3 separate regions of the Homo sapiens genome follow, and regions 2 and 3 are each linked to region 1. The links come from fine-mapping of genetic effects on gene expression. A gene starts in region 1. Each other region holds a variant in brackets. All regions are shown on one strand. Distances are from middle to middle.

The links.
Region 2: its variant is fine-mapped to the expression of LPIN3 in whole blood (TOPMed, PIP above 0.99).
Region 3: its variant is fine-mapped to the expression of LPIN3 in Th1/17 cells (Schmiedel 2018, PIP 0.95).

The regions. Positions count from the first base shown.
Region 1 is chr20:41,337,785-41,345,961 of GRCh38, reverse strand. It overlaps LPIN3 (lipin 3), which reads right to left and starts at 5,141. Exons shown (of 20, transcript NM_022896.3): 1 at 4,960-5,141; 2 at 1-166. The coding sequence starts at 158. RefSeq lists a silencer at 5,160-5,319 and an enhancer at 5,480-5,529.
Region 2 is chr20:41,163,796-41,171,972 of GRCh38, reverse strand. PLCG1 (phospholipase C gamma 1) reads right to left here. Exons shown (of 32, transcript NM_002660.3): 10 at 8,140-8,177; 11 at 7,967-8,052; 12 at 7,772-7,892; 13 at 6,872-7,040; 14 at 6,606-6,728; 15 at 6,422-6,523; 16 at 6,147-6,334; 17 at 5,579-5,779; 18 at 5,378-5,497; 19 at 5,114-5,294; 20 at 4,044-4,121; 21 at 3,103-3,206; 22 at 2,798-2,894; 23 at 2,447-2,516; 1 more. It overlaps MIR6871 (microRNA 6871), which reads right to left and starts at 2,950; the gene lies at 2,895-2,950. The variant A/G (reference allele first, on the strand shown) is at 3,900.
Region 3 is chr20:41,036,671-41,044,847 of GRCh38, reverse strand. All of the region lies in intron 2 of TOP1 (DNA topoisomerase I), which reads right to left. Among named protein-coding and RNA genes, the nearest start is that of TOP1, 12 kb to the right of the region's middle. The variant G/TTG (reference allele first, on the strand shown) is at 3,411.

The sequences.
Region 1 (8,177 bases):
CCAAAACGCACGTGGAAGGGTGAGCACCGGAACGAGCCGTCCACCTGCTTCACCACCAGCACGTCAATGCCGCCGCTCAGTGTGGCTGGGTTCAGGCCCCGGTACAGCTCCTTCACCGTCCCAAACACCGTCTCCGCCAGCTGCCCCACGTAGTTCATGGCTGGTGCTGGCAAAGAAAGGCAGTGGCTTGCACAAAGGTCTGCTCCAGCTCCTCCACAAGAAGCTCCTGCAGCCTGACCACACAGACCCCCAAGTTTACATTTGTGTCACGCCTTGGAGTGCCTTTGCACAGATGGCAGCAGCTGTGCGATGGGAGGTACACCTGTAGATGTGGGTCTAACCCCAGCTTGCCCACTGCCCTGCTAAGGGACCCTTGGGCAGCCGCCTCCTTCCCCAAGTGCCGATGTCCACATCTGTAAAATAGGGCACAAGGTAAAACAATACCCAGTTGCCTCGTGCCTCTAAATGCCATGACTAATGATAATGACCACAGTGTTCCGTGGGTACGGCTCATTTCATCTTCACAACAACCCTGTGGGGCTGGCTGAGCGGGTGTCATTATTCCTGTTTACAGATGAGCCAGCAGAGGCTCAGAGAGGTGGAGTGACCTGCCCAGAGCCTCATAACTATGAAGGAGGGAACCTGAGATCTGAACCCAGGTTTGTGTGGTTCCACTGGGATGGTCCAACTGTGAAAACGGAGGGGGTGGGAAGAGGGGGCAGCCTCATTAGATAGCAGGCCCAGGGCCCTGCTGGATAATGGGTGACTGTGCTAATGAGTACTCTTCTTTTCCCAAGAAGTGGGAACGAAGGAGCCTCCACTTTTCCATCTGAGAAATGGGCTCAGCTGTCTTGCTATCTGCTGGTCCTGTGAGTTGGAAGGTGTCTTGCTGGGCGATTGTAGCTGACTTATGGGGGACCAAGGGTGGGAGCACCCCAGGTACTCAAGGCTCTGTTCAGCCCCATTCCTGGGGTCAGATGCTCAAGGCAGAGCATCCCCTATAGCTGGGGGCTTAAGGCCCCAAACTACAAATTCCTTCCCAGTTTCCCTGGTGGGAAGCCTGTCCATGCACAGCCTGACCCCAGCGGTGTCCAGGCTATAGTTCTCAGACCCCAATTTCAACCCTAACCCCAGCTCCTCAGACCAGGGCTGAGCTGGCTAGGCGCTCAGACCCACAATCAGGCCTTGGGCTGGCCTCAGCCCACTGAAGCTGCTCCCTCCCCCAGCCAGACCGGTCTCTCCAGCTTTCCCACACCAGACAGGCCTGGGTAAGCCCAAAGCAGGAGGCTGAGGCGGCCTCAGAGAAAAAACAGGGCTATGATGAGAGCCTCCTCCAAGCTGGCACAGTGCCTGCCCCAGCAGCTTCAGGTGATCACCCCTGCCCTCCTGGCCAGGCCAGTGGCCTGCTGCCCCTCTGCCTGCCAAGACCCAGACTGTCCTATCTCTACAGAGCACTTTCTTCTCTCAGACCCTGGGTCAGAACCCCTGGAGGACAGCCTGCCATGCAAGACCACTTAGCAAAGAAGCTAAGTGACTTACCCAAGGTTAAGTGACTTTACAGGTGAGGAAACTATTCAAGCTCTTCTAAGCTGACAGGCCATAGAAGGGGTATAGGGAGGGGAGAGAGGGAGTAAAGACTCATATCCAGCTCTCCTGACTCTAGAGCATGGTCTCCTTCCACTCCATGCTTCCAAACCACCCAAGAGTTGGTTGCATGGCCCATGGCCACTTCTGCACAGCCCTGCAATGCCCTGCACTCAAAATGTGGTATGCACCAGCAACAAACATCAGCATCAGCATCACCTGGGAGCTTGTTAGAAACAGAAACTTAGGCCCAACTCAGCCCTACTGAATCAGCATCTGCATATTTTTCTTTTCTTTTCTTTTCTTTTTTTTTTTTGAGACAGGATCTCACTCTGTTACCCAGGCTGGTGTGCAGTGGCACCAAAATGACTCACTGCGGCCTCAACCTCCCAGGCTCTAGTGATCCTCCTGCCTCAGCCTCCTGAGTAGCTGGGACTACAGGCATGTACCACCATAACTGGCTAACTTTTAAATTTCTTTTGTAGAGACAGGGTCTCACTATGTTGCCCACGTTGGTCTCAAACTCCTGGACTCAAGTGATCCTCCCACCTTGGCCTACCAAAGTGCCGGGACTACAGGCGTGAGCCATTGCACCTGGCCTAGCATCTGCATTTTAACAGGATCCCGAGGTGATTCCTGCAGCCTTTCATGTGTTTGAAAGGAACTGCTTTTGTGTTCCCAGTCCACAGTCTACTCTTGGAAGAGCCTAAACGACAAGACCCCCACCTCCACAGCATTTCTCAGATAATGCCACATCCTGCCCATCCTAGGACATCGGATGAAGCAGTGGATTCTTTCAGTCTATGTCAGAGCGTCACAAACATAAGACACAATTCAAATTGCCAAAGTGAAAATGGGATGAAATGAAACTCCCTGGACCCCTAAGATGTCACTCAAATCAAGTTTATCTGCAAGGCACCTGCCATGTGCTAGATGGGACATTTCCACTTTGGTTTCTCCCTACCTAATGCCAAACTCTGAATACAGGTCTGGGGAGACAGAGTGGTGACAGACACTTGGTGGGCAGACCTCTAAACCACTGTGCCCAGGAAAAGCAGAGAGGACTCCAGAGGCTTCCAGGAATTAAGGAGCAAGCATGGGGAGGGGCAGAGCCGGGGTTGGGGCAAAGGTCCATCCAGCTGGAGGCCCAAGCCTGAGCTTTCTGCCCTATTAAGCCCTAGTGCAGTTTCTCAGCTTCAGCATTACTGTCCTTTGGGGCCAGATAATTCTTTGCTGGGGGGTGGGTGGGTGCACTGTAGGATATTCAGCAGCATCCCTGGTCTCTGCCCATTAGATGCCAGTAGCACTTCATCCCCCGCAGCTCCAGGTTGTGACAGCCAAATTGTCTTCAGACATTTTTAAATGTCTCCTGGGGGACAAAATTGCCCCCAGCTGAGAACCACGATCTAGTAGAAAGGGCCGAATAGCAGAGATGGCACCCGGGGTCCTACTCGGATCCAGCCCTGGAGTATTCTCAGGCAAGTAACTGGCTGGCCTCAGTTTCCCCTTCTGTGAACCAAGGCCTCAGTTTTTTAGACCCATCTCCCTCAGATCTAATGTCACGGGAGTCCAGAATTCTCTCCTCTCTCTGTTCCCCCCACTTCACCAATGGATGTCCCCCACATCTGCCTGCTCGGCATTTTGGGGGCCTTCTGTGAGCCCCCCACATCTGCCTGCTCAGCATTTTGGGGGCTTCCAGTGAGCCCCCCCACATCTGCCTGCTCAGCATTTTGGGGGCCTTCTGTGAGCCCGCCTCTGTCTTCACCTATCCCTTAGGCACCCCCTTTTCCCAGGACCCAGCTCTACCTCCTTGTTCTTTTCCAGACAGAGGAGAGCTCTGCTTGGCTCCCCTCTATCACCCTCCACCCACAAACTAACATGTCTAAAATCAGCCACTTCACTCCTCACACCTTCCCAGGAAGCCGAATACCCCTTAGGACTAGTCACTACCCCTCTCTCCCTCCCTAGCCCTCTGAATCTTCTCCCCCAATTTCCTGCTCATCCAGCCCCTCCTTTCTCCAGCTGTCCTAGGTTAAGACTTTATAACCAGATGCCCAGATCACGGGTGGCCACAGGACATTAGGAGAAAAGGCACCAGATTATCTGGGTGCTGATCCCCACTCCGCCATTTGCTAGCTGTGACCATGGGCAAGTGACTTCATCTCTCTGACCCTCAGTCTCAGCCTCCAAAATGGGAATAACATCAGGCACGTGTGAGTAACTAATGACTTTGTGTAAAGCCCTGGAATGCAATAAAAACCTGTATGTACACCTATCAGCAGCAGCATCATGACAGCCCCACTCATGCAGGCTGGTCCTGTGGGCACTGCAGGTCATACTCTGATGAACTGCCCCTGCCAGCAGTTGAGAGTTTGGACTTCTTTTATTTATTTATTTTTTTGAGATGGAGTCTTGCCCTGTCACCCAGACTGGAGTGCGGTGGCATGATTTTGGCTCACTGCAAGCTCCGCCTGCTGGGTTCAAGCAATTCTCCTGCCTCAGCCTCCCGAGTAGCTGGGACTACAGGCGTGTGCCACCACACCCGGCTAATTTTTTGTATTTTTAGTGGAGACGGGGTTTCACCGTGTTAGGATGGTCTCGATCTCCTGACCTCATGATCCACCCGCCTCAGTCTCCAAAGTGCTGGGATTACAGGCGTGAGCCACCGCGCCCAGCGGAGTTTGGACTTCTTAACTTGGCACTCAAGGCCATGCACAATGGTGGCACCACTATTTGCAAAACGAGCATGTGCACTCCACGTAGGCCTCACACCCCACCTTGGGGATGTTCACAGGCCTTCCAGGCTAGACTACAACTCTAGCACAGGGAAGCCAGAGCAAGCTGCCCTAGGACTAGGCTCTCAGCCCTCGGGGCTCCCAGGTTTGGGTGGATGAAGGGTGTGGCTCTCCACCGAGGACCAGAGGGAGCAGGAGAGTAAGCACTCCTAGTGCCCCAGTAGAGAGAAAGCGCCACCCCAGCCCCCAGCAGCTACAGCATCTGATCTGCCCAGTCTCAGGGCAAGCAGGGCAAGGGCCAGTCACTGTTTTGCAACTGAGGACACTGGGTACCAGAGAAAGTGGCTGTCCTCCTCAAGGTCACACAGTCAGGCTGGGGTAAAGCTGGGCCAGCCTCCCCTGGGAGGTTTCGACGTCTCCTCTCCAGACTCTACGTTCTGGGTGTCCAGGGGGCCTGCAGCCGCTGGGCCAGGGAAAAAGGGACAAAATGAGGCCAGTCCCTCCACCCCTGCGTCCCCATCTTACAGCTAGGGGTGGACCCAGGCCCGCGGACAGGAAGGAAGGAATGTAGGATGGCAGGACAGATGGGCAGGGCGGGAGGGGAGAGGGTCATCTCTTCTCCCCCCGAGTTGGGCCCTACCTGGGGAGCTGCCCACTGGAGCTCCTGGACTCAGAGCCGCCGCCTCTACCTACGTGCACAGGCTCCACAGGTGAGTGTCTTCGGCCCTCAGTCACTTGGCGCTTCCGGGTCCTCTAAGACAGGGTGAGAGCACGGCTCCACTCCTTCTACGATCCTAGTGCGGCCTCCACAGGCCCCAATCTGCCCAGGCTCCACTCCCTGGAAAGACCCCGCCCCTGCTCCGATCCCCGCCCAGGGCGCCCTTTGGCCTCGGAGGCGGGGGCGGGGCCAGACTTCATGCCCCGCCCACCAGACCCCGCCCCAAGTCCCTGTGCCACCGCCTGCCCCACCTCCAGAAAAGTGTGGATTTCGGAACGGGGCGGACCTAGCTCCTCCCAGATTTGCTTCCAGCTTGCTGTGTGATCTTGGGTGAATTCCTTCCTCAATTTGATCCCATTTCCTGTTTTGTCAAGGGGGAAAGCCGCCTTGCAGGATTTTAGAGATGACATGAAATGACTTTGCGCGGCTCCTGGCGCTCAAACGTCCCCTCCTGGGGGCAGCTTTTCCTGAACCCACCCGTATCTCCCAGACTGGACAGGCCCCTCGCGTCATCTGTTCGCATAGCCCACAGTTGTAATTTCATATTTGCTTGAATGACTACTTGATTAATGTATATCTCTTCATTTAAATTTGAACTCTGAGAGCAGGTCACGTACATCCTTACACTCCAGCGCTTATCAGTACCTCGCCTGACAAACAGCAGGCGCTCCATAAATGCCCGCACCTTCATTCCATCCCTGGGACGTTCTGGTCGAGCGGCAGCGGGCTCAATACTGACACTGGCCAGCAGGGGGCAGGCGGTGATCAGCCTTCTGGCCCAGCCGCGCTCCCTCCCTGTCTGCAGGCACTGCGGGAGGGGACAGGTGAGCCCAGGTGCGCCGAGGCACGCGGAAGGTGCATTTACTCTCGTGCCTTGGGCAAGGCCCGGGCCGGGAACGGCTTTTTCCTCTTGGATCTGTGGCTCGCGGCTTTCCTGGACCAAAGACCTTTCCGACGCCCTATGGCCCCTGCAAAGAAGCTGCCCTGAGAAGGGCCTGGAGATGAAGTAATTTGTTCTAAAAGAGAGAGGGCACCGAGGAAAGGCTTGGCGGAGCAGCAACGGCGACGAGCCAGGCTTAGAAACGACTGGGCGGTGAGGAGGAGAGGTAGCTGCCATTATTCTGACTCAGGGTGACAGAACCTGTTTGGAAGTGACTGGCCTCAGTTGTCCTCATTTTGGCAGAAGTCATTTAGTATCAGTCCTGATCCCAGGTAGTGTCTGGCTGCTATCTCAGAAGAGCCCTGTTGGGAGCAGAGCTATGTCAAGGTGGCCAGGAGGGCAGCGTCATACATACCATTTTCTGTAACATCAGGAAATCCCTGAAGGGAGCCCGAGAAGGAAGGAAGGAGAGGTCACAGGTTGGGGCTACAGATGCCGAAATCAATTTACCTCTTTGAGCCTCAATTTCATCGGCAAAGGTGGTGATAAAAGCTACCTTGCAGGATTCTATTGTGAGGATTTACAGGATGAATTAAATAAGTGGTTCTCAACCTTGACTGTGTGTTAGAATCACTGTGCCCTAGACGAATACTGATGCCCCGGATACTGGGAGTTTAAAAACCTCTCCAGTTGGTTGTAATGTACAAACAAGGCTGAGAACTGCTGATCCAAATTAAATGCAGAGCACAGCGCCAGGGCACACACTAGGCATTCAGGAATGTTTATCACATATTTATTTTTATTTAAAAAATTTTTGTGTCACACATTTTTAAAGATGGAGCACAAATTGTTTTCATTGTTCATTGTTAGAGGAAAAAAAGTTGATATAAAGGTTGTTGCAGAAATTGCATTTGCGGCTGGGGTGAGGTGGCTTACGCCTGCAATCCCAGCACTTTGGGAGGCAGAGGTGGGCGGATCGTCTGAGGTCAGGAGTTGGAGACCAGCCTGGCCAACACGGTGAAACCCCATCTCTGTTTTTTTGTTTTTGTTTTTGTTTTGAGATGAAGTCTCGCTCTGTCACTCAGGCTGGAGTGCAGTGGCACCATCTCTGCTCACTGCAAGCTCCACTTTCCGGGTTCACGCCATTCTCCTGCCTCAGCCTCCTGAGTAGCTGGGACTACAGGGGCCCATCCCCATGCCCAGCTAATTTTTTGTATTTTTAGTAGAGACAGGGTTTCACTGTGTTAGCCAGGATGGTCTCGATCTCCTGACCTCGTGATCCACCCACCTCAGCCTCCCAAAGTGTTGGGATTACAGGCGTTAGCCACTGCGCTCGGTCCCCCGTCTCTATTAAAAATACAAAAAAAAAAAAAATTAGCCAGGCATGGTGGTGCACAGCTGTAGTCTCAGCTACTCAGGAGGCTGAGGCAGGAGAATCACTTGAACCGAGGAGGTGGAGGTTGCAGTGAGCTGAGATGGCGCCTCTGTACTCCACCCTGGGTGACAGAGCAAGACATTGTCTCAAAAAAAAAAAAAAAGAAAAAGAAAAATTGCATTTCTGACAGGCTCGTTTCTGGAACTCTCAATCATCTGGGATTTGGTGATGAGGGTAGGAGAAGAAAGGCAGATAGAACAGCCTCTGCTAGTATGACTTGTTCTAACACTGAATGGAACTGAATAAGGCAGAGACTGTCCCACTCTAGCTTGTGGTTGACATCACCATCTCCAGGGCTTTCTCTGAGGGTGCAAGCAGCATGGACACTTGTGTTTGCCCATTTCTGGGGTTGAAGGTGGAGGCCATTTTTTCCTCTGCTTGGGTATACTCATCGGATGAGCCTATATCACTGGCAGCTGTTTGTTTCTTCATTAATCCAAGAATGCAGGTGGTACTTCCTTCTTTACAGAATTTGGTAGCTTATGTGTTTTATTGTTTTTTTGTTTTGTTTTAGACAGGGTCTGGCTCTGTCACCCAGGATGGAGTGCAGTGGCACAATCACAGCTCACTGCACCCTTGACCTCCTGGGCTCAAGCAATTCTCCTACTTCAGCCTCTCGAGGAGCTGGGACCACAGGCATGCATGATCACACCTGGCTTTTTTTTTTTTTTTTTTTTTTTTTTAGAGACAGAGTCTCGCTCTGTTGCCCAGGCTGGAGTGTAGTGGCACAATCTCGGCTTATTGCAACCTCCGCCTCCCAGGTTCAAGCGATTATTTGCTTCAGCCTCATGAGTAGCTGGGATTACAGGTGCCTGCCACCATGCC
Region 2 (8,177 bases), 170 kb after region 1:
TTGCCCTCCAACCCTCTTAGGGGGGGTGGGGGATACAGACTCCTCATCACCACCCATGTTCCCAGTGACCTTCCAGGGATCCTGGAATTGGCCACACTCCCAAATGACACTTTCTGACCATTTATTACCCAGCCTCATGCTGGGGTAAAAATGATTCTTCTGTGTTACCTGTGACTGCACTGGGGATACAGGCCCCTGGCTTGGTTTCCATCTGTGTCCTAAGGATGATCCTCACTGCCTCAGCGCCCCCAACTCAAATATAACCACCCACTCTTCATGGCAAATCTCCATGCCAAATCTCTACAGAAGCCCACTTACAAGCACCCCAACCCATCCTCTCCTGGAGGACTTTCTTTCAGTGGCTTTTTTTTTTTTTTTTTTTTTTTGAGACAGAGTCTTGCTCTGTCGCCCAGGCTGGAGTTCAGTGGCGTGATCTCGGCTCACTGCAATCTCCACCTCACGGGTTCAAGCGATTCTCCTGCCTCAGCCTCCCGAGTAGCTGGGATTACAGGTGCCGGCCAACATGCCCGGCTAATTTTTGTATTTTCAGTAGAGACAGGGTTTCACCATATTGGCCAGGCTGGTCTCGAAGTCCTGACCTCAAGTGATCTGCCCATCTCGGCCTCCCAAAGTGCTGGGATTACAGGCGTGAGCCACCACGCCCGGCCTCAGTGGCTCTTACATTCAGACTCTTCCCTTTTCAGCCTAGACCCCCAGATCCAGTCCTTCAACCACCTGGTATGCCAGCACCTTTTCCTTCTAGGGGACAGCCTGGCAAGCACCCTATCCCTTCTCTATTTGGCTTGCGGGTGCCCTCTCCAAAGCAGCTACAGACCCATCTACCAAATGCACTTGGTGAAAGGGCCACCAAGTAGGAATTCCCTAACCCTTGAGAATACTTCTCTGTTCCCCCAGGCTCAGGGGAAGAGGCCACCTTCTCCAGAAGGCTGGTCCTACCAGCTAAGCTTGGGCTCCATCTCCTCCCACACGCTGCTCGCTCCTTTCAGCCATCTGCATGAGAGCCTGCTCAAACCCCAGTCACCTGTTCTCTCCCTCAAGGACAGGCCCTACAAAGGCTCTGCTTTTGCCATTCCAGACTCCCTGCTGCCCACTGCCATCTAATGCCAGCCATGCTGCTGATGCAGCTCAAAAGTCTCACAAGGGCTATTAGCTGCTGCTGAATCCAAAGGGCACTTGCAAGTTCTTATCGTTCCTGTCTTTACCTCTGTAGCTCTCAACACAGCAGACCCTCTCCCTCACCAGTGGCCTGCAGTCTGTCTGACCTGCCTTTCCTGGGCTCCTTTCCTCGCCCATGCCTTCTCATATGGAGCTTCTCAATCCATCCCAAGTTCTCTTCCTATGCGACACCACCTCATCCCTTCTATGCCTCAGCCCCCACTCCACTCCTGCTTCCAGCCCAGGACTTCTCCTCTTACCTCTGGTCTTGTGTATCCAATTGCCCACTAAGCAGACCCACTTCAACGACCCATCAGTATCTCAAACTCAACACAACCTAAACACACCACATTGCATCTTATGTGTCTGTTTCTTCTCAATCCCTAGCTAAGGCAGGGGCTGTGGCCTATCTAGCATAGGCCATCGGCTGCCCCACTGCTCTGAGGGGGCCTGTGCTGGGAGCTGGAGGCCTCAGCTGCCTGACGGGCCCACACACTGCCCCCCAGAAGGTTCCAGCAGAATCTCACCCTGGCGTCTGCTGTCTGGGCCACTTCACGGATCTTTTTCACCCAGTCCTGCAGCTCCTCCTGTGAGTCGGCAGCAACATCCAGGGACCAGTGGGCCACCGACGCCATGCTGATGGAGAAGACGAAGAGCCGGTTGTTCTTGCCCTCAGGACGGATGGCTGGGAGGGCGAGAGCAGATAACAGCTGGGAATAGACATCTCACCCCCTCCACCCCACTCCACACCGCAGGCACTGGCTCAAATGAGTTCTATCTCATCCCATTTCCTCCTTCCCACACCCCATGAGGGGAAGGACTACTCTGCTGGCCCATTTGACAGATGACGACGCTACAACTCAAACAAGTCACTGCTGGTTGTGGTGGAGCCAGTGTTCCAACTCAGCTCTGACTCATGCTTCTTCCTCAGGCCGTGTCTCCCTCTCCACCCCATCTCCAAGCCTCTGTCACATCCCTGTGGTACAACCCATTAGGCCTGGGGATGTCAGCCAACCAGCAGCATCAACTTTGTTCTGCTGATTCTGACGGGTTCCCCAGTGCCTGGCATAGGTAAACATGCAGGGGTCAAAGCTGACAGTGACAAAGGGAGCCCAGGGTGTCAAGGGGATGTCCAGAGCATGGGGAGAGCTTGGAGTGAGGGCAGACTTTGGGGTTCAGCCATCAGCTTCCTCCCTAGGAGCAGGAAAGAGATACAAAGAAGAATCTCACCCTAGGGAACAGTGGGCAAGAGAAACAGATGGGAGCTCACCAATCTGACAAGCCGGCACATCCAAGACCCCCCGCAGCAAGTCCCCTAGGGGGCTGTTCTCGTCCAAGTGCTGTGGGAAGCAAAGCCCACCAATGGTCAGCATGGCTACTGCATATGTGTGTGAGGGGATATCCGTGTGCATGGGACAAATACATCTTGTGGGTGTACCTGTGACTGCCAAATGTAGCACAGGTATATGGGAGACTACGTGCATGGCCACATGGGCTGTGCGACCAGCCCATGTGACAGGTGTCTGTGCATGCACGTGCGTGCTTGGGACTGTGTGATGGGGGCATGCCAAGGAGAATCTGGGAATAGGGAATGCTGTTACTCAGGTGGTTCTGGTCTTACCTCCCTCTCCGGCTCCAGGGCCACGGGGTTGACCATCTCTTCCACGTAGTTTGATGGGAACCACAGCTGCTTCTTCCCTCCGTAGTCCCCTCGCCACCTGTGGGAGCCACAGGGTGCTGACCTCCAGCAACCACCCCGAACTCCCATGAGGAGGGTATCCTTTGGTAGGGGTTCCCATGCCTAAGCCAGGGTGAGGCAGGCACTGCTGGTGCACACAGGAGACAAGCACATCACAAATGCATGTCTTTGGGGCCCCAGCTCCACTGGGGCCCTTGGACTCTGGGCCTACCACACCACTGGCTTACCAGCCTCCCTCTTGCTTCTCCACATTCTGGATGATGGCGCTCTTGATGAAGGTCAGCTCGTCCTCCCTCTGGGCCTTGTAGTCAAAGAGGGCTTTGACTGCACACTGCAGAGGTGAGAAGCACCAGTCAGAGCAGAAAGGCTCTCCCTGCCACTGCCAACCTGGGGCTTCATGTGCACACACACATGTGCTTGGGCTTCCCTGCCTGGGGTCAGGCCAGTGGGAGATGACACTGCCATCAACAGGCCCTAGTTATAGTTCTTGTTACTGCCCTGCAGGGAAGCTCCAGGACAGATATGATCAGAGAGGCAGGGCCTCTGCCAGTGAAATACCTCGGGACCCAGGTGGAACCTTAAGCCCCACCCTGGGCCACAGGGAGAACCTTGAATCCGCTCCCAGGAGTCAGGGCTGGCAGGCCAAGAAGGCAGGGTCTGCAGTGGCCCTGAGTGCCTCCCCGGGACCTGGAAGCATATGGGGCCTGGATGGGACCCTACCACTCATCTGTGAAGTGGAAAGAAAAACTTCCTTCCAGGTCCCCTGGCTGTGGAGGGGAGGGGGTGAGAAATAGGGCCCAGGCCTTTTTAGAGAAAAAGGCAAAACAAAAAAGAACCTGTGTAACAGGGCTCCATGAGGCCGGGGAATGAGTGGCCAGTGTGCCTCCCAGCTCCTACCCCGCTGCTGCCCAGGAAGGAAACAGGGGTCACCCACAGGAGCAGTTTAAAGGGTCACTGCTGACTTAAGGGGTAGGGGCTAGGGAGTGGGTCGGCCCTGGGAGACCTGCGGTCGCTCACCAACCAC[A/G]CATCTCTCACAACCTCTTGGGCCTCGGAAAACCACAACCACCACTTCTCCACAAAGACCACAGATGGCCCAGAACACAGAAATGAAGCCCCAAGCAGCTGGGGACCCTCCCCAGCTTCCTATGCCCAGAGGCCTGAGCTGTACCTTGAAAGTTGGCATAGGGTTTGCCTCTACATAGAAGCCAGGGTTGCGTCCCTCATACAGGGCCCCGTAGTCAGGCTCCTGGAAACAGGACACAATGGGATATGTTAATGCCCCAGAGCCCAGAGGTAGAAAGCAGCTACTGGTTTCTGGAGCAGCTTCCCTTTCCCCCAGTGCAGCAAACTTGCACCTGATCCACAGGGATCCTTCGACCTCAGTAGAGACGGCTTCAGAGGCCTCAGGCCCGGCCTCACTGTTCCCTTTCCTTTCTTCACATTCTTACATGTAAGGCCCAGCCCAGGATTCTAAAATCTCTCAGGTCCTAAATGCCCAAACTCCCAAGTATTTCTGAGCTATGTGCAGGTGGGCCCTTCACAGACTACCCATATTCAGTGCTTTAGTTCAGTGGCTTGTTGGTTCACTGCTGAGCCCAAAGTCAGGAAAAGCCTTCCCACTCCCCACATTCCTCCTGCCGCTCCTCTCCATCACTTGAGTCCCAGGTGCCAGTGGACAACAGGCCTCTCTCTCCCCAGCCAGCCCTGTCTACTGACGACAGCAGTCTCTCAACTGATCTTCTGGTCCTAGACCCCTTCCTTCTGTCCAGGGCCCTTATCACCAGCTGTGCTGCCATGGGTCCTGACTTTTTCCCTCACTGGTCTCACCTCCTGTGGCTCTGCCCTCCATACCATCCACCAGGCGGAGGCTCCACAACCACTCTTGGGTAGCCTCATCTCATCTGCCCTAGGACAGAGTCCAGGCCAAGCCCAGGTGGATGAGTTTCCACTGTGTGCACCTCTCCCAGTGTGAGCCCCAGAACCTCCTCACTCCACATCTTGACTCATGAGGAACCCTCTGCTTATGTGCCTGTCCCCATCCTTAAAGATGCTGCTCAGATGTCCCCTCCTGCAGACACCCTCCTGGTACCCACACTGTGGCTCCCAGCTGGAGTCAGGGGCCCTCCCACGAACTTCTACAACACACCAGGTCTTGCTGTTACACACATCCAGAGACTGGTAAGATTCTGGGTCTCTCCTGCCTCCCCTGCCATGCCCCGTCTACCACAGCCCCCTCACAGCTGTGCCAATCTTCTCCAGTGCCTCCTCGTTGATGGGATAGCGCAGCTTCATCTTGCGGTATAGCGGGTGTTTCTCATAGTAGCTGATGAGGTCAACAAGGCTGTCGAACTCCGAGTTCCCTAGCATCACTGTCTGGCCCTCTTGCTGGACACGGCAATGCTTGATCTTGCCCTCAGCCCTTCACAAGGACAAAACAGTCACACAGGGTCAGGGCAGCTCAGACCCAAGCAAGGCCCCACAACCCAGTGCCACACCCCTCACCGGAAAGAGATGGCATATGAGTTGGGTTCATTCCGCTTCCGCACCAGGAAGGCCCCATCACGAGGGACGCGCATTAGCATGTGCTCAGCCTGTGCTCTGGTCAGGCTCGCGTGGTACCACCTGAGAACAGGCAGAGTCAGGCCCGGCCAGCACCACCCATGGCCCTGCCCTGCCTTGTCCGCCCCCAGGCCCTTCCCTCACTCTTTGCTCTCGTGGGCGTTGGTCTGTGGGACAGGCTCTGAAAGTCGCATCTCAAACTCATTACAGCGCAGGGGCACCTGCTGGTAGTGCGTGATGAGGTCATAGAGGGAGTCAAAGACGAGGTTGTCTGTCAAGAAGAACTTGGGGGTCCCAGCATCTTGCCGGGAGTGGATACGGCAGTGCTGGACTTTCCCGTTCCGCCTGTGGAAGACACAGAGTGAGGGAGGCTGGGGAAAACAGGCCAGGGCCCCAAAGACCAAGTTCCACCCCAAATGAGGGTGGAACTCAAGGAGGGAGCCTCAAGGAGGGAGGCCAATCTCCTGAGGAGCTCAGGTGTGGGCAGTCACATGAACCAAAGGTGTGGGCTTCAAATGAACCGAAAAGGGAGGGGTATGGGGGGGGGGTGAGACAGAGAGTGTGTGTGTGTATGTAGGTGAAATTATGTTCCATGTAAAGCCTAATTATTGTCCTGGATCAAAGGCTCAAATGTTAACTGATTATCTCTGGGTGATGTGATGTCTGTGTACACACGCTGACTGAACATACGCATCTGCATGGGAAGTGTTACCAGAAAGAGAGCGTGTAGTCGCCCACGAAGGTCTCACTCTCTCGCACGAGGAAGGAGCCGTCAGGGGCTCCGGTCTCGATGCAGTACTCAGTAAGCAGGCGCTCAGCGATGTGACGCCCGTCACGCCCTGCCCCTAGCTTCCCATGGAACCACTTCTCATTGGAGTGCAGCTCTGTGCTGCTGCTGACCTGTCAGGGGAAGGCAACAGCAAAGATACTGTGACCCTGGCCCAGGCCTGACCTGGCCCAGCCCCCAGACCTGAGCTGGTTCCTCACCTCCTTGGGCTCCTCCTCATCCTCGTTGCCCTGGTCACTGCTGGTCTCCTCAGAGTAGTAGATCTTGCTGCTGGTCAGAACAAAGTAGTGGGGATACCATTCCTGGAACAGACCAAAGAGGGACTTGTGAGCCAGGGTCCTCACACCCACTGGCCTACCACCCCCAGCCTGGCCCAGTCCTCACGTGGTTCACAGGGTCCTCCAGGTAGAGGATGCCATTCTTGATAGAGTTGCTGATGTCGTTCTCAGAGTACATCATGGATGTAGGCACCTCCTCGTAGGCACTGCCCTCAGCCAGCTTCTTGTGCTGTAGGGGCAACCAGAACAGGGCAATGCAGACCCCAGTCCTCACCCCACCTCCTCACCCAGGTTTAGGCCCAACAGCTGAAGCCATGGCCTGGGCAAGGCACTGAGAAGTGTGGGGCTTCCGCAATAAGCCCGCCACCCCACCTTGATGAGGATCTTCCTCTTAAGCTGGTTGGGTGAGGGGAGCCCGTCGGCAGAGATCTCCACGGGCTTGGTGAGGAGTGTGTCCCCCAGCACCTTCTTGAAGTATTGGGCCATGTTTCTCTGCTGGGCAATGCTGCAGTGGTCCTCAATGGACAGGATGACTGGGTACCTGCGGGATGGGGGACAAGCACAGTGAAACAGATTCTGCAATTCTCTGGGTCTAAGTAGCCCCTCACAGTGAGCTGTTGGAAGCCAAGGGCCTGGGGGCTTCTTGTCTGTAAAAACTATCCCAGAAAAGAGGCAGGCCATAGCCACTGGTGGGGCAGAGAGGGGTTCTACAGCTGTGGCAGCAGTGGAAACCAAAGGGTGGCAACTGATGCAGTCCCGAGCTGGCCCAATTATGGAGGCTGCTCAGCAGTGCAAGAAAAATGTTTCACACCAAAGAGGCCAGGAGAGAGGAGAAGCCTCCAAAGTTAGCTGTTAGAGCCCTGGTGAGCTAAGGGAGACCAGTGACCACAGTTTAAGCAGTAAACAGAATTGAAGGAATGGGACACAGGGAACAGAGACAATCTTCTGGGCTGTGAGGGCAAAGGAGTTGGCAGGACACTGGCCTAAAGAAACCAGGGCATGTTTTCTGAAGATGAGAAGAGCATGTGTTCTACAGTCTAAAGGACCCATGAAGAAGAGAGTGGGCCCAACACGTAGGAAACAGAAAGTGTAACTTGGGAAGCAACAGCTCAAGCAGGGAGCAGGTGACGAGGAGAGGCCAAGAGGAAGGACAAAGATGAAAGGCTGAGGGAGAGGGGACAGGGCATTTGAGGAGTCTTTCTGCCCTCTGTCCCTCTAGAACGAGAGACCTGGAGCCAAGTTAACCCCTGGGTCATCCAGCCTCCGACTCACTCTGAGGCCACAAAGGCATGCTCCTTGATGGTGTGCAGGACATCTGAGAACTTGATCTTGGTGGTAAGGGTGTGCCCATGGTAAATAACTGGCATCCCATCCGGGCCGTCCCAGCAGTCCACTGGGGAGCAACATCACCATGGTCAAGCGGGCAGGCCTCCCATCTTCCCTCCCCCAGCCCTGGACCCCACGCACACTCAATGCAGCGACAGCCCATCCGCAGGCAGCGAGCATAGGCTTCCAAGGAGGACTCACTGGAGAACTGGTCCCCGGTCAGGTACCTGGATAGGCAAGGAGAGGCAGGTAGGTATGGTCAGATGGGCCCTCCTGGGGAAGAAGCTGGGTGGGCCTGAAGGAGCCACACTCACGTGTTGTGCGAGGAGGAGATCCAGTAGTGGGAAAGAGG
Region 3 (8,177 bases), 300 kb after region 1:
CTGCACTCCAGCCTGAATGACAGAGCAAGACTCTTGTCTCTCTCTCTCTCTCTCACTCACACACACACAGACACACCTCATATGGCTAATAGCTACCATATTGGACAGCACAAATATAGGACATTTCCATCATGACAAAAAGTTCTACTGGATGAAATTATCCAGGAAAATACTCTGCTTCCTAGCACTCTCCACTCTGCCTATTGCAGCCCAGTCAAGGACTTTTCCCTACATGGTACTGCACTATTCTGTGTGGTTCCCAGGCCTGGCTAAGCTGGCTATCTCAAAGCAGCCTGCTTCTGCACAGAACCTCTGGAGAATCAGGCCCTCAATGAACACCTGCCCAGAAAACATTTCAACTGAAGTTATTAGTCTGCCGAAGCATAAGACAAAACTGAGATAGAGCAATTATTTTAAGCTTCGGGAGCAGGGCAAACAAATCCCATTTTTACTAACTACCTTTGCTCTCTTAATAGAAGACAACACTGGAATTTTTTTACTTATCTCTGAAAGTAATTAACTAGTACAAGACCCTTAAGATGGGCAATTGCATTTCTTTTTTTCTTTTTTTTGAGAAGGAGTTTTGCTCTTGTTGCCCTGCTGGAGTGCAATGGCATGATCTTGGCTCACTGCAACCTCCGCCTCCAGGGTTCAAGCGATTCTCCTGCCTCAGCCTCCCGAGTAGCTGGGATTACAGGTGTCTGCCACCACGCCTGGCTAATTTTGTATTTTTAGTAGAGATGGGGTTTCTCCATGTTGGTCAGGCTGGTCTCAAACTCCCGACCTCAGGTGATCCGCCTGCCTCGGCCTCCCAAAGTGCTGGGATTACAGGCGTGAGCCACCACGCCCGGCTGGGCACTTGCATTTCAAATACTGCTCTATAACAAGTCACATTTTCACAAGGACATCCCTGCACTACAAATGCATCTTCTTTCCCAAGAGGCAGAACTTAAAAGGGAAAAAGGACTTGTCTAACCTGAAAATGTATCTTCTCAGGCCAGCTCAATTAGGGCAGGCCCATTCCTGTAGGCTTGTCCTCCTTTGCTTCCATTAAGGAACGCTTAATGCCTGGGAAGAGTGAGAGTGACTACAAACCTCTGGCCTACGTGCGGATCCACAGCTCAGCCTAAACTGCCTTTGTTTCCAATGGTCAGGGGCCTCCAAACACACTAAGACCATACTTTGTCTGGCCATAAAGACTTTAAGTGTGCTGACACATTGTTTCATGTATCCTATTACTAATTCAACCAAGGGACCTTCTTTGTCTAGACAATTCTCATTGACAGGGCTTGAAATGCGCAGGCCATTCTCTGGGCCACTAGCTGTAGAAAGAATAAGACTGAACACACCTCTCCTACTGAAGTGGCATATATTCAGTAGAAATACAAGAAACCTTTCTGGTGTTAATCATATAACTGCTCCTTAAATTTTTTTATACTCCAGAAGATCCTCCCCCGATTATGAATTACTCCAACTTCACAACTGTAAGAAAGCACAAGTAATGAACTCCATACATGGTTCCTTGTGAAAGAACAAGGAATACTGCTTAAGAGGTTGAATTACTACAAAACTGGTATCTTGCTCTATTCTATTGGTTCTGAAACTTCAGTGCACATCTGATCACCTGGTAGACACTCATTAAAACCCAAATGGCTAAGACCCTACTCCCAGAGTTTAAGAGTCAGTAGGTATGGGTGAGGCCCGAGAATCTGCATGTCCAACAAGTTTTCAAACAATGCAGTTCTGCTGATCAGGAAACCACACATTGAGAACCACAGATGACACCTGAACAATATGTGTTTGAAATGCTTGAGTCCACTTACATGAGGGTTTTCTTTCTCCTCTGCTACTCCTGAGACAGCAAGACCAAACTCTCCTCTTCCCCCTCAGCCTACTCAACAAGACAATGAGGATGAAGGCTTTTATGATGATCCATTTTCACTTAATAAATGGTAAATATATTTTCTCTTCCTTACAATTTTCTTAATATTTCCTTTTCTCTAGCTTACTTTATTGTGAGATCATAGTATATAATACATATAACATACAAAATGTGTGTTAATTGACTGTTTCTGTTATCAGTAAGGCTTCTGGTCAACAGTAGGCTATTAGTTAAGTTTTCGAGGAGTCAAAAGTTATAACTCGAATTTTTGACTGCATAGGAGTCAGCATCCCTAACCCTCGTGTTGTTCAAGCGTCAACTATACTGCTTTATTCAAATGCTTCCATTTCAATCAGTACCATCAGGAGCTGAAGTCCCCAACTAATTTAATCTAAAGGCAGTGAGCTCCACAGACTGGATTTTCAGTATTCCACTAAATTATTCCACTTACTTTCTAAAGTCCTGATTTAACCATCCTAGTATTAGTATGAAAACAAACCCTGCTCATTGTGCTCTGCTTGTCACCCAATCCGAAAAAGTAACATCAGAATTAAATGGCTTGTTAAACACTGAAGTAGGAGAAAGGATTAGGATTCTGACACACAGTAAAACAGCTGCAAAGGCAGTTAACTATATCTGCTATTTGGTAAATGCTCACTGAAAGGTAGAAACTATAACTTAGAGTGAAGTATCAAGCTTTTATAAACATATATTAAAAAATACTGTTCTGGTCCTTTAAAAATATCCTGTAATCTTGGCTGGGCACGGTGGCTCACTACTGTAATCTAAGCACTTTGGGAGGCTGAGGCAGCCGGATCACTTGAGGCCAGAAGTTTGGGACCATCGTGGCCAACATGGCAAAACTCCGTCTCCACTAAAAATACAAAAATTAGCCAGGTGTGGTGGTGGTGTGCCTGTAATCCCAGGTACTCAGGAGGATGAGGCAGGAGAATCGCTTGAACCCAGGAGGTGGGGGTTGCAGCAAGCCCAGATCGTGTCACTGCACCCCAGCCTGGGCGACAAAGGGAGACTCTGTCTCCAAATAATAATAATAATAATCATCATCATCATCATCATCACCCTGTAAGCTTTATACCTTAACCTGTGGAGTATCGTAATTGAATGAAGCAAAATATAGATCTTTAGCCAAATAAGATAGTAAAGTTCAGATAGATCAACTTCTCCAAAGGAGGTTATGGGTCACCTGCATTAGTCAGAATCATTTGGGATTGTTGAAGATACATTAAAAATGCAGATTTTCAGTACCTTCCACTATAGAATCAACTTCAAGGTGTACGAGTAGGAATATGTATTTTCACCAATCATCCCCAGGTGACTTTTAGGCATATCAGCTTGAGAAAAACAAGGAAAACTTACTGTTAAGCTCTCAAAAGTCTCCCACTTGATCTTCAACCAGCTGGGGGGAGAAAGGAGTTTGCACTTCACAACTGAAACATTTGGTAAAAGCATCTGTATTGACCATACAGGATGAAACAGTGCTCTTAATTTTTTTTTTTTTTTTTTTTTT[G/TTG]AGACAGGGTCTCGTTCTGGGGCACAGTAGGGCAAACATGGCTCCCTGCAGCCTCAACCTCCTAGGCTCAACTGATCCTCCTTCCTCAGCCTCCCAAGTAGCTGGGACTGTAGGTGCACACCACCATGCTTGGCTAATTTTTGTTATTTTTTTGTAGAGACGGGGTCCCGACATGTTGCCCAGGCTGCTTTAGAACTCCTGGGCTAAAGCAATTCACCCACTTTGGCCTCCCAAAGTGCTGGCCACTTCTTAATAAGGAAAACACATAAATACAGACTACTACAGAATGAAATATTAAAAGAGGATAACAAAAGCTCAATGCAAGTCAGAGAAAAGTGGTTACACTTCTGGCTTGGGGTTACGTGGTAATGCAGGCAGACTTCCCTAGAAAGGAAATGGAGTATCTGTGACTATGCCATCAATACTCAAACAGGCTCTGAGATGTTTAGAACTCTCAAGGAGTTCACAATACCTAGTGCCTTCCTAAAAATATGTAGTAAAATGGAGAAGTATTGAGTATACCTAGCTAAACCTTATGAAATTCTAAAGACTAAGAGGCATTCATTCATTCCAGGGTATAAGAAATACTACTTAAACAGAACCTAACATGGTCTTTTTTTTTTTTTTTTTTTTTGAGACGATGCCTCGCTGTCTCCCAGGCTGAAGTGCAGTGGTGCCATCTCGGCTCATTGCAACCTCTGCCTCCCAGGTTCAAGTGATTCTCCTGCTTCAGCCTCCTGAGTATCTAGGACTACAGGCATGCGCCACCAGGCCCAGCTAATCTTTTGTATTTTTAGTAGAGATGAGGTTTTTTTTAAAAATCAAATTTCCAATAAATGCACTTCTTAGGGACTTCTCAGTGTGGGGTGCCTGGCCCTGGAGCACTTGTGGTTTGGAAATCAAGTGTAACAAGCCAGTAGTTATAAAGACTAACAAATTTGTGTTCCTTCTCCTCCCTTTCCTCTCCTGGTTAAGTGGAAGCATTAAAAATTAAGAAATAGATCCTGAGCCACAATCAATTCCTAAGAAGCTACTGTTTCTTCATTTCTGGTATTAAATAGTAAGAACTACTTACATTGCATCCATTCCTGCAAAAATGCACTGACTGTATGATTAAGGCACAGTAAGTCTAACATTTTGTCCCGATCACTTTTCTAGTATTCAAACCACTGTAAGTAATACCACTATGTACTCTGCATCTTTCTCTGAAGAGCTTTAACAGCTTTTATGTATTACCCATATCAAGATACTTCATGGATTAGGAAGGGGCAATAATATTTCAATAGTTTCATAAAATTAGTTTCCCAGGACTTTAAGTAGAGTTTATTCTCTAAGATTTTAGTTCTTCAAATATGTGAAGATGGTGATTTTAAATACTTTATTTCAATCAATTCAGTTCAAGGATTTAAATTATTTCAAATACTTGAATTAGCTATTGTCACATGATTTCTCACACAGAATGTGACCATCTCTAGCCATTCCGACAACCTACCTGCTCAGGAAATGTGAAAACTATTTTTCTTTTTTTTTTGAGATGGAGTCTCGCTCTGACGCCCAGGCTGGAGTGCAGTGGCGCAATCTCGGCTCACTGCAAGCTCCGCCTCCTGGGTTCATGCCATTCTCCTGCCTCAGCCTCCCAAGTAGCTGGACTACAGGCGCCCGCCACCACGCCCGGCTAGTTTTTTGTATTTTTAGTAGAGACGGGGTTTCGCCGTGTTAGCCAGGATGGTCTCGATCTCCTGACCTCGTGATCCGCCCGCCTCGGCCTCCTAAAATGGTGGAATTACAGGCATGAGCCATTACCAAGCCCAGCTGAAAACTATTTTTCTAAAATTCATGCAACATGGATGTCTGATACAAAAAGATAACAGGAAATAAATACACAGAACTTAAATCTTTTTGCCTATTTCAGGCAAAAAAGTTTAATGGGTATATAGGTATACAAAAAAAAACCATTTTTTGTAACATTTTAAGAAATAAGAGTTTGGAAATCTTTGGAAATCCAAGGTCCTAGGTCTCCAATTTCTTTAAGGGGGGAAAAACTCACGATTAGGACTAAATGGAGACGTCACTCTCTTGCACTGATAGTGAAATATTAACTGCCAGAAAGTACCTCCAGTCCCCATTCATGTTGTATGACAGCAGCCTTTGTACTGAGGCCTAATGAAAAATCTCAACAGAGGAAGTGACTGTATATACCTACAACGTACTAATTTCAAAGTTCATCCTGATAGGCATGTGGGTTTGTCTTGTTCATCTGTGTCTAGTCACAATATTCACTTTCTGAATGTTTGTATGAATGAATATGGCAACTTAAACTTTTCCATTTACAATTAAACGTGAAAATTTTAGCTTCCTAAGTAGATGCCAAATATTGCACCATCCCAAGTGTGAAAGGAGAAAGTTAATCACTGCCAAAGATGATGATGATTTTTTTTTTTTTTTGAGACAGGGTCTCACTCTGTTGCCCAAAACGGGGTAGGTACAGTGGCATGCTCACGGCTCACTGCAACCTCCACCTCCCGGGGCTTAAGCAATCCTTCCACCTCAGCCTTCTAAGTAGCTGGGACTACAGGCATGCACCAACACACCTGGCTAATTTTTGTATTTTTTTTGTTGAGACAGGTTTTTCCCATGTTGCCCAGGCTGATCTTGAACTCCTGGGCTCAAGTGATCTGCCCATCTCGGCCTCCCAAAGTGCTGGGATTATAGGCATGAGCCTCCAGGCCTGCCCCAAAGATTTTTAATCCACAATTTAAGGTATGAGAAACAAACAAAGTGGTGTGTATGCAGCAAGCCTTGTCACTGGACAACTGAAGTTGCCGCAAAGTCAAAGCAAGTCAGTACCCTCCTGAGCCAGCCTTTCTATGATTTACAGCAATAGTATCATACTCAATGCTCCCTAGTGACCCCTCCAGCTTGGTTAAAATTTCACAATAGATATATGTGCAAATTTAAAGAAAGTAAAGATGTTCCCTTTGTACAAAAGCCTAATAAAGCAATTTCTGAAAAAGGTGTTGTTGTTGTTGTTTTTTAGCATTGGCAAGGAACTAAAAATTCTGTTCTAAGCTTCACCTTTCATAAAGTAATCCTCTCATGCTCTTTAATCCTCAATGTTGTAAGGTAAGTATTAAACCTACTTTATAGGTGAAGAACTAAGGCTCTGATATTAACTTGTTCAAAGACCTAGCCATTGAGCAGAAGCTCAAGAACTCGAATTTAAATTCCCTTTAAGTCTCTATTATGGGGTGGTGGGGATGTAGAGGGGGTTGGAGGCCGGGAGACTATTCGCATTCTGTATCAGAGGAAAACGAAAGAAAAAGAGACCAAAGCTTTGAAGACTTTTAAATCCAACCCTATTGTGGGCACATTCCTTGTATACTGAGGGCAATGGAGCTACAGAGCATTAACAAATACTCATCTTCCCAGATTTTTTTCCCCATATTTTATGAGCTATATTTTTCCTGATATGTTTATCTTTGAAGACTCTTTAAAATTAGGCCCTATTCCATAATTTCTATACAACAAAATTATGTCCTCCTGCCTACTTTTAATTGAATTTAAGTCTGCGCCTGTTGTGATGCTTCTGTGATAATCCTTTTGCTGAATGGCGTAAGATCTCTACTAAGATCCATTTGGCTTAAACCTAATGAACACTAGTGAACACATCCTTAAATGACTTTTGTTTATTTCCTTTAAGTAACACTTCCAAAAAAACAAATTCAAGGCAATTCAATATTCAGCATTAGCTAGACTTATGAGCCATTACTGAAATTTCTACTGACTTTATCAAATTTTTTCATGGAATCTCCCAAATGCCTATACTCACGCATAACTGTTAACACGGCATTTGGTACTAAATTCTCACACATAAGCTTTATTATATTATTTAAGGTATTCTTATTCCCAAGAATTACTATTTCAAAGAAAACCAAGTTGGTCACTTTAAGCAACTATTTGAATAAATGAAAAACTGAAGTAATTCTCAGGTGCTTTGAGAGTTCTCTGTTTAATTTAAAAACGTTTTGGGGGAGAAGTAAAATAGTGGCCTTTGAAAAAATATGCTGACACAAGACATATTGAATTTTGTGGTTTTAAAAAATTAACAAATAATGAACTTGGCATTTTATTAAATGCATCGAAAAGGGTCAAGTTATTTTTAATAGAAAATCCATAATTCTATTAAATGGTTGAGAAATTAGTCACATCAATAGACTTCTTTCATTTCTGAGCCCATCTTCTGTACTGCTACAAGTTCCTTTGGCAATGACCACTTTGCTGTAAACATTCTTAGAAAAGTAGGAATTAGGCTTGGCGCGGTGGCTCATGCATGTAATCCCAGCACTTTGGGAGGCCGAGGCTGGTGGATCACGAGGTCAGGAGATCGAGACCATCCTGGCTAACACGGTGAAACCCTGTATCTACTAAAAATACAAAAAATTAGCCAGGCGTGGTGGCGGGCGCCTGTAGTCCCAGCAACTTAGGAGGCTAAGGCAGGAGAATGGCGTGAACCTGGGAGGCGGAGCTTGCAGTGAGCCGAGATTGCGCCACTGCACTCCAGCCTGGGTAACAGAGTGAGACTCCATCTCAAAAAAAAAAAAAAAAGAAAAGTAGGAACTAGATATACAATTGGATCCTTCTCAGCCCAAACCTAGATATGAAGACACCTTTTACTTTACAGTGACCGCTTTGTAACTGGAAGACATCAGTGTAGGCTCTGCTGATTCAATTAGGTAAAGACTCAACAACACTAGTTACATGTTACAA